2 linked regions of the Homo sapiens genome follow. The protein of the gene in region 1 purifies or fractionates together with the protein of each later gene. This does not show direct contact. Each region holds a gene or a part of one and is shown on either strand. Other genes may lie near its edges.

Evidence for each region. Proteins that work in one complex are often made in the same cells at the same time.
Region 2: the proteins of SLC30A5 (region 1) and TMED7 purify together in Homo sapiens (affinity purification with mass spectrometry; 2 studies listed by BioGRID and IntAct, with this or other methods). This does not show direct contact.

Annotation. Positions count from the first base shown.
Region 1 is NC_000005.10:69,117,985-69,125,023, forward strand, and holds part of SLC30A5 (proton-coupled zinc antiporter SLC30A5), read left to right. Parts: intron 1-514; coding exon 515-644; intron 645-3,709; coding exon 3,710-3,911; intron 3,912-5,214; coding exon 5,215-5,441; intron 5,442-7,039. UniProt on the Homo sapiens protein: Together with SLC30A6 forms a functional proton-coupled zinc ion antiporter mediating zinc entry into the lumen of organelles along the secretory pathway.
Region 2 is NC_000005.10:115,612,703-115,616,068, forward strand, and holds the end of TMED7 (transmembrane emp24 domain-containing protein 7 precursor), read right to left. Parts: 3' UTR 508-3,366; downstream 1-507. UniProt on the Homo sapiens protein: Potential role in vesicular protein trafficking, mainly in the early secretory pathway. Appears to play a role in the biosynthesis of secreted cargo including processing and post-translational modifications.

The sequences.
Region 1 (7,039 bases):
CTAACACGGTGAAACCCCGTCTCTACTAAAAATACAAAAAAAATTAGCCGGGCGTAGTGGCAGGCACCTGTAGTCCCAGCTACTCGGGAGGCTGAAGCAGGAGAATGGTGTGAACCCAGGAGGCGGAGCTTTCAGTGAGCCAAGATCGTGCCACTGCACTCCAGCCTGGGTGACAGAGCAAGACTCTGTCTCAAAAAAAAAAAAAAAAGAGAGTAAAGAAGGACTTTGATGAATATATAACATTTTAACAAATGTATATATTCGTTAAAATGTTATATATTCATATATAACGTATATATATTCATATATAACGTGTATATATATGTGTATATATATATATGTATATATATATGAAGGACCTTCCAGGCATTAATATGATATTTAAAATATTGCTAATTTTCTATTATTAATTACTTAGTAGTATGAAAATTTGGACTTGTTTCCTCATTTATAAAGTTTATACTTTAAAAATATTTGTCCTTTTCCTTTTCTGAAAAATGTTCTATGTTTTTAGGTACGGCCGAATAGAAATTCTGTCTGGATTTATTAATGGACTTTTTCTAATAGTAATAGCGTTTTTTGTGTTTATGGAGTCAGTGGCTAGATTGATTGATCCTCCAGAATTAGACACTCACATGTTAACAGTAAGTCTTTTTATTTTCCTATTTGGATTTCTAGTCATACTTACATAGTTTTTTCTATCCTAAAGTTTAATTGTTTGCAGTTATTGCTCTAAGAAGGTTTTATTTTTTACTTATATCAACATAACTTCCTATCTTGCTGTTTACATTTATACTGCTCCCTCTTAGAAATTCTCTTTTTTTTTTTTTTTTTTTTTGAGACAGAGTCTCTGTTTTCCAGGCTGGAGTGCAGTGGCATGATCTCAGCTCACTGCAGCCTCCACCTCTCAGGCTCAAGCGATTCTCGTGCCTCAGCCTCCTGAGTAGCTGGGATTACAGGCATGTGCCACCACCCCCTGCTAAATTTTGTATATTTTGTATAGATAGAGTTTCGCCATGTTGGCCAGGCTGGTCTCGAACTACTGACCTCAAGCAATCCTCCCACCTTGGCATCCCAAAGTGCTGGGATTACAGGCATGAGCCACTGTGCCCGGCCAGCTATAGCAACTTTTAATGTTCTCCCTGTACCACCAAAGCTTTACATGTGCTGTTTCTTGTAGTTGGCATGTCCTTTCCTTACTTCTGCCCTTCAGCCTCCATCAAGATTTTGCTTATGTGAAATACTTTTTTTCTTTTCTTTTTTTCTTTTTTTTCAAGCAATTCTCCTGTCTCAGCTTCCCGAGTAGCTGGGACTACAGGCGCCTGCCACCACGCCTGCCTAATTTTTGGAAATACTTTCTTTTAATCCCCCTCTTCTCTCCACAAAGTTTGTTAGATTCCTTTTCTCAGTATTCTCATTATGTTTTGTGCATTCTTCTTTTAGCAACATTGAGTTGCAGTTGTTTAATTTGTCATTCTTCCACAATTAAGATATGTAAGTATCTTCAGGACCTGAATTACATATTATTAACTCTTAAGTTCAGTTCTAGCACCTGGCTTGTCGTAGGAAATCAGTTGTTAAATGACAAAAAGCAGCTCTGGCTCTTGCTGGTGGAAGCATACATGAGTAAAATGTTTCTATAATACAGTTTGGAAAAATAGACTTTTTTGGATTTTTTAGTGCCTGTATCCTTTGATATTGACTATTTATCATACATAAACATTCACACAAACATATAGAAGTACATGACTCTGGCCGGGTGCAGTGGCTCACGCCTGTAATCCCAGCACTTTGGGAGGCCGAGGTGGTTGGATCACCTGAGGTCAGGAGTTTGAGACCAGTCTGGTCAACATAGTGAAACCCCATCTCTACTAAAAATACAAAAATTAGCCGGGCATGATGGCGCACACCTGTAATCCCAGCTAGTTGGGAGGCTGAGGCAGGAGAATCACTTCAACCACGAGGCAGAGGCTTCAGTGAGCCCAGGTTGCACCAACTGTACTCCAGCCTGGGTGATAGAGAGACTCTGCCTCAAAAAAAAAAAAAAAAAAAAGTAGTACATGATTCATTGTACCCTTATTTATAATAGTGAAAAAATGGAAACAATTCACTGTCCACCAGTGAAAAAAGTAATTAAATAAATTTGTTATCTATATAATAGAATATTACAGAGCTATTGAAAAGAATGAGATATATCTGTATATACTGGCCTGAAAATATTTACGAGATGTACTAGTGAAAAACAAATTGCAGGCCATGCATGGTGGCGGGCGCCTGTAATCCCAGCTGCTTGGGTGGCTGAGGTAGGAGAATTGCTTGAACCTGGGAGGCAGAGGTTGCAATAAGCCGAGATCATGCCACTGCACTCCAGCCTGGTTGACAGAGCAAAACTCTGTCTCAAAATGAAAAAAAAAAAATTGTAAAATAGTATTATGATTACATTGTTGGTTTTAAAGGGTGTTATGTGTATGTATGTTAGTACACAGATGGAAAATACACCATTTTAAGCGTGACTAACCCTTGGTGGTAGAATTATAGGGGACTTTCATCTTCTACATTTTTATTTTCCTGATAAAATACACAATGATGAAGTATTTTTCAGTAGGGGAGAAGGAGTACTTATGAGATGATGGAGTCTCTGTAAGCAGTACTTGGTTTCATTCAAAGTCATTAACCATCTACCAGCTTATAAAGCCTAATGAAATTTTAAAATCTGGAGTCAAATGGTCCGAATCAGGAAGAAGTAAATAACCTCCCTACACATTTAATAAAGTAAATCTCTTACTACTTTTGAAAAGTAATTAAAAGTATTTGTCCTTCTCATATTTATATTTTCCTTTTATAAAACAAATGGATTGCTTTAAATTGTAGATGTAGGCAAATTAACACCCTGAGCTACTACTATTCAAGATCATTTTGTAAGAGCAGATAATCAAGGATAAGTAACTTTGTTTATCCTTTGGAGTATTATTGTGGCACCATTAAATTAAAGTAATTTCATTCACTTTGTTAAGAAAAAAATGAGAGGCCAGGCATAGTGGCTCATGCCTGTAATCCCATAATCCCAACACTTTTGGAGGCCAAGGTGAGAAGATCGCTTGAGCCCAGGAGTTTGAGGACAGCCTGGGCAACATAGACCCTGTCTCTACCAAAGAAAAAAATTTGTTTTTAATTTAAATAAATGCGAGATTACTATTGTATGTTTCCTTTTTATTATACTTGTTTTACTTTGGAAAATTTTACTGTGTTTAAGACATAATAAGACCATATTTGGAATCTGCTCATTAATAAATTATAATTGTTGGCATATAAACTGTTCAAATTTACCTAGCAATATAAAGATTTCAGGTACAGTGTATACTTGCCCTAGTAAGCAGTACTTTCAAACTCTTCAATAAACAAAACAAAACTTTGCATCATTTATTTATACATAAACCATAAACCAAGTACATACCATTCTTAATTGAAATAAGTCCAAATTCCTCTACTTACCAATTCTGCTTGATATTTGAAAGTTAAAATGTTTCTTCTAAAATGTTCTAAAATTCACATTTTTAAAATTTTGGACTTACTGAAACTTAGTAAGGTTTTACTGTGAATACTTTCAAAACTGTAAACAGAAAAACATATATAGCTATATAATAACTTTTAAATAACAAGTCTATTTTTAAATTACTAATTTAAAGGTTTTTTTTCTCCCTTTTGCTAGCCAGTCTCAGTTGGAGGGCTGATAGTAAACCTTATTGGTATCTGTGCCTTTAGCCATGCCCATAGCCATGCCCATGGAGCTTCTCAAGGAAGCTGTCACTCATCTGATCACAGCCATTCACACCATATGCATGGACACAGTGACCATGGGCATGGTCACAGCCACGGATCTGCGGGTGGAGGCATGAATGCTAACATGAGGGGTGAGTCCTTGCAAAATATTATCCTACTTTTCAACTGTGTTCTAAATCAACCCTCTGTGTTTATTTGTATTAAGTTTTGGGCTTCTGGTATGATATGATTTTTAAAAAGCAATCTGTGACTAAAAGAAAGGTCTGAAGCTATCACTATAGAAAATATTCTTACCTGAATACACATAAAATTAAATATTATTCAGCCTTTAAAAAGAGGGACATTCTGGCTGGGAGCATGGTGGTTCACGCCTGTTAATCCCAGCAATTTGGGAGGCTGAGGCGGGAGTACCACCTGAGGACAGGAGTTCAAGACCAGCCTGGCCAATATGGTGAAACCCTGTGCCTACTAAAAATACAAAAATTAGCCGGACATGGTGGCAGGTGCTTGTAATCCCAGCTACTCAGGAGGCCGAGGCAGAAGAATCGCTTACAGGTGTGAGCCACCATGCCTGGCCGTCACAGAAAATTTTTTAAAAAGAAAATGAGGCTGGGAACAGTGGCTCACATCTGTAATCCTAGCACTTTGGGAGGCCAAGGTGGGTGGATCACCTGAGGTCAGGAGTTCGAGACCAGTCTCTCCAACATGGTGAAACCCTGTCTCTACTAAAAATACATAACTTAGCCAGGTGTGGTGGCAGGCGCCTGTAGTCTCAGCTACTCAGGAGGCTGAGACACGAGAATCACTTGAACCTGGGAGATGGAGGTTGCAGTGAGCCAAGATTACGCCACTTTACTCCAGCCTGGGCAACAGAGTGAGACTCTATCCAAAACAAAAAGAAAATGAAAATATATTTGTTCTTAAATGTTAGTTTTTAAATGATTATAATTATATAGTCCTTTTCATAGTGACAGCTGAATAGATATTAGTTGCAAGGTAAACACAGTGTGCTATTATGAACCTTCATTACAAAAAGGAAATTCTTACTCCTTTTTTAGAAATTTTTATTGCACTATAAAAAAAATGGAGGAAGTACTAATCATTTATTTTGCTGAATTGTTTATTCTGATTGCTTAATATAAGTAATGTGGGTAATGTCAAAACTTGCCTCAAGTATGATTTTTGGGAAGCCTTTCCAGACAAAGTACACCATAAAATTTGGCACGCTGTGTCATGAGTGCCTATGTCCTTATATTTTTACCACTGTATTCTGAATTCCTTGAGGGCAGTGACCATGTTTTAGGCATTTTGAAGTACTAGCCAGTAGCAGAGTATGTGGTGCACAGTAGGTATCCAGTAATATTAGTAGAATGTATTAAAAAACTAAATTAGATGTGCCTTAATTTTTAATGTCCTTATATATTTTATTTGTAGGTGTATTTCTACATGTTTTGGCAGATACACTTGGCAGCATTGGTGTGATCGTATCCACAGTTCTTATAGAGCAGTTTGGATGGTTCATCGCTGACCCACTCTGTTCTCTTTTTATTGCTATATTAATATTTCTCAGTGTTGTTCCACTGATTAAAGATGCCTGCCAGGTTCTACTCCTGAGATTGCCACCAGAATATGAAAAAGAACTACATATTGCTTTAGAAAAGGTACTGTATGTAATTTCTTCACTACTTTCTTCCTTGAAAATCACATTTTTGAAGTCTTTGCTGGAAGTAAAACAGACAACCAAATAAATAATAAAACAAAACGAGGCCAAAAAAGAAATATAAAGTAGCATTTAAAATTTAATAAGTTGACCTAACAAGAAATATGCAAGATATAAATGAGAAAAATACAGTTTTACTTAAAGGATATAAAACAGGGACCGAATAGATGGATGAGATTTTCTTGGATGAGAAGACTCTTTATTATAATGATGTTGATTTTATTTTATTTAGATTTCAATTTAGTTGCCTTCATTGGATATTTTTGTTTATGGTTTGGGATGTTCTAAAATTATTTGGAACTTACTTGGAAGAGTTAGCGCTTGAGAATAAGAAAACATACATAAACTTACAGAATTAATTAATAGGATCCTACTTTGCAATTATAAAGTAGCAGAATTAAGTGACAAAACTAACAGTTTAGATCGAGACCATCCTGGCTAACAAGGTGAAACCCCGTCTCTACTAAAAATACAAAAAATTAGCCGGGCGTGGTGGCGGGCACCTGTAGTCCCAGCTACTCGGGAGGCTGAGGCAGGAGAATGGCGTGAACCCGGGAGGCAGAGCTTGCAGTGAGCCGAGACCACGCCACTACACTTCAGCCTGGGTGACAGAGCGAGACTCCACCTCAAAAAAAAAAAAAAAAAACCTAACAGTTTGGTCCTTGCACAAGAATAAAGACATAAATCAACTTTTAAAAAAATAATAAGTTCCCATTCTTGTGACCTGGGATTGTTTCCTGGACAGCACAAAAAAAAAAATAGTAACAATAATAATAGGTTGTCTGTAAAAGAAGAAATAATAAAAAATGAAAATAAATGAAGAATTATGGTATGTAATGTAAAAGAAGAAATAAAAATAGGTTGTCCAGAAACAGACCCAGGAGTTTATGGAATTCAGTATATAGCAAAGATGGTATTTTAGATCACTGGGGAGAAATAGTTGACCTAAATAACCAGCTTTTGGTTAATTACTTCTTTACTTTGTGGGGAAAAAAAAGCTATATCTCTATACCATATTATATAAAAATACATTTCCAGTGGATTAAATATGTAAATGACAAAAAAATTATGAAACTACTAAATAGAGAAATATTTTTGTTTGTTTGTTTTTTGAGACAGTCTTGCTCTGTTGCCAGGCTGGAGTGGAGGGGCGCAATCCCAGCTCACTGCAACCTCCACCTCCCGGGTTCAAGCGATTCTCCTGCCTCAGCCTCCCAAGTTGCTGGGATTACAGGCCTACCACACCCAGCTAATTTTTGTATTTTAGTAGAGATGGGGTTTCGCCATGTTGGCCAGGCTGGTCTTGAACTCCTGACCTCAAGCTATCCACCCACCTTGGCCTCCCAAAGTGCTGGGATTACAGGTGTGAGCCACTGCACCCCGCCAGAAAAATATGTTTATAATCACAAAGATAGGGAAAGACTTTTTAATATACTTGAAACCAGAGGCCAAAAAGGGAGGATAAAATTTACAAATTTGACCAGTTGAAAATTGCCAGTTGGTGGAAGATTTCATTAACAAGTATAAAACATAAAAGGC
Region 2 (3,366 bases), about 46 Mb from region 1:
AGCAGATGGAAAACAGAAATATATAGTTAATAAAATCCAAAGTCACACAACCATGACTTGAACTTGGCTGTGACTCCAAAGCCAAAGCACTGAACTGCTACTGAGCTGTAGTGAAATCAAGATAGCTAAGCCTTCAGAGATCTATCCTTAATTGGTTTTTTGTAAGGCAATATTGCATAGTGCTTGAGAAAGAGGGCTCTGGAGCCAGACTGCTATGGTTCATATTCAAACTCTGCTAATATACTGTGTGATATGAGATTTCTTAACCCCTCTATTCCTCAGTTTCCTCATCTGTAAAATGGAAATAATACCTTTATTTCATAGAATCATTGCAAAGATTAAATGTGTCAATACAAATACTCAGCACAGCACCTAGCACAAGGTAGGCATTCAATAAATGTTAACCTATATTTATAGTTATTTCCCTGTTGTTTTTGGAGAATTATGCCCAGGAACCAGACTGTCCCCTCTGACTACATTATTAAGAAAAACACTGATACAACTGGGTAATATACAAACTAAAGGTAATTTACTTAAAAATTAAGACCTCTTTAGAGCAACTGATGATTTAACTGCTTTTCACCTACACAAACTTTCAGTAAGGAATGCAAAGAGAAGGTTACAAATTAGGCAGTACAGACGTGGTATTTCTCTTTCACCTTCTTTCTTGGACAGTCCCTCAGATATTTTAATAAAATACCAAATAAATAATCACTCTCATTACAGAACTGTACTCTAGGCTTTAAGTTTATAAGGAGCTTTAGAAAGATTTAAATCCTGACAGAAACAAGTAAAGTCAGTTTGTTGAAAGATTTTTTTTTATTCTACAAGAAATTGATAGGTGCAATCCTGTTAAAGAAATTTCTTTTCAAAAGTAAATGAAAAACCCCTCTGAATTATTTATATATTAATTTTTTGAAAACAATAGTCATAGGGCCTGCTTTGTCCTATTTAACTATAAATGTTACACATTTACAAACTGAAACAAAAATGCATAGTACAGAGATTTAAATGAAATCTTCGAAAGAATAAATTTGCTTTTCAGTCCACTGTATTTTCAAAATTGATTATCACCAAGCTTGGATGAAAGCTGTGAACCACAAACCATTTGTTTATTTAATAGAAAAAAGAATGTGTAGATTATTAGCAAAGTAATGCCTTAAAATGTATCTTCACACAGTTGAAATTTTAGTATAAACTTGTATATCAAGTTGCTTTCCATTATTTATTCTACTTTAAAAATATATACAACTATGATGTTCAAATATGTATTCTGAGCCATTATGTTCAAACATAAATATCTGGGAAATTCAAACTGCTGCAACAAGTTAGGAAAGGATTAAGGAAAAATGATGAGCTACAAATTATGTAGTTGGAGGAAGAAAAAAATGTTACTTAGCATTTATGTCTGGATAGGTATGTATTTTCTAATTTACATACACATATCCAGTTGAGTATAGACAACCATCAAAATGTAACCAGTTACACAGAGACTAGACTAAGCCAACACTATTTTCTATAACAGGTAACAGTAGTGATTTCAAAAATTTTAATATCTCAATAGTTTCACCAAAAATTATTTGTGGTAATATGCTAATATTCTGAAGTTTTGAGAGGCACAGATTAAATGAGTGCACTATCTATGCCAAACTCAGCAAGTCTATAACTTACTGTTTAATTATGGTGTAAGTATCTGAACACAATAGCATAGAGAGGCAACCAGAAAAGGACATTTTACATATGCCCATGCTGATCAATCACATTAACATCAGTGCTTACAACTTTCAAATTTAAATATAAAGGGACACTTGCAAAGCCGCAAGACAACTTCAGTACAAAAACCCAAATTGATAAATCTGCAAAATCTTAAACTTCTTAATCCATTGATAAATATTAAGGAGTAGCTGGTCTTCAAACACCGTAAAAAGTTAAAGGGTTGAAAACATGTTCACCCTTTGCTATACGGTGGCATCTGAAATTATCAGGCATGACAACTTGAATTTGTTTTGCTCTTCCATGCAAGAAGTATATATATGCATTTTAAGATAGCTTAGAATTAAGAGTTAACTTCTAGTCAGTATTGGTAAGTGACTAGGATGGCTATCCAATCAGTATTCTATGGTATCACATACCAAAGTCTCTACAATATGACAGTCTTGTCTTGTTCAGAACTCATCACTTTTGGGTAGGGAAGAGAGGCACGGCAGAAAAGCAGTTGCAATTAAAAAAAAAAAAAACAGCAGAAAAGCTTTAAATATCTATATAATTTTGAATCATCTTGTATTCTATCAGATAATACTTGGAACAAAATCTTATTTCAATCAGCTCAATCTATACAAGTTATAAGATGCAACACAATGTAAACCCTATAGTCTACAGAATATGCACTATTTAATACTCATTAACTAAAGAAAAGTCAATGAAGATTACCAAATAGGAAACACAAAGCATTCTAAATTTTTAAATCACTTTAGGGTAGCTAACCAGAAACTACAGAAATAAAATATGCACGACAAAAAAAAGAAAAAAGGAGAGCAACTAACTTTTCAGTGCATCACATCCATGAGGATAAAATGTATGGCACTTATGTGTGAGACTAATACTAACAATTGTTAATTTAAGCTGGGAATGACTCACAGACATTAAAGTCATATAAGGGCAAGAGCTAGCCAATTAAAATTTTAAAATTAAACATATCACCTTTTTTCCTTGTAAAAGCACTGAAAATGTAATGAGTACGTGTAACTCACTAAAAATTTTCCTATTTCATTTGCCCCCATTGTAGTGTCTTAAATTATTCTGTAATATTTCTACCTGTTACAAAGTCTGATATTTAAGGCCTGTATAAACTCTTTTACACTACTGAAACTACTGTTTTCTGTGTACTACAAATGCCTTTATGAAAAAATAGCATAGCTGGTTTAAATTATAAACCCCAAAAACAAAAGTCTGACATTTTCTAAGCTAGTGAGAAATCAATTTTACCATGATATATCAATATTAACTAACATTCCTATGGTAGATTTATTTTTCCTCCATAAAACTGAACAGTGCAGAATAGGGCTTGGGCTACAGTTCATCACATTTGGTTTTCTTATTAACAATTAAAAGGCAATTTTCTTCCTCCCTAACACATGTAGACATTAAATCTAAAGTTTTTAAAATATCAACTACCTATAAGAAAAGTAGTCTTAAATGGTTAAAAGGAATCAAAATACCAAAGTTTAGTGTGCGAAGAGTAGATATAAACAACTGCGAACAGAGTAGATCATTGGTGTTGAATATTTAACATGAATAGCCCAAAATGAGTTCCAAAGTTTTTCCACCTTTACAAATAAAAAAAGGTGTCCTTTCCACAGTTTGGGA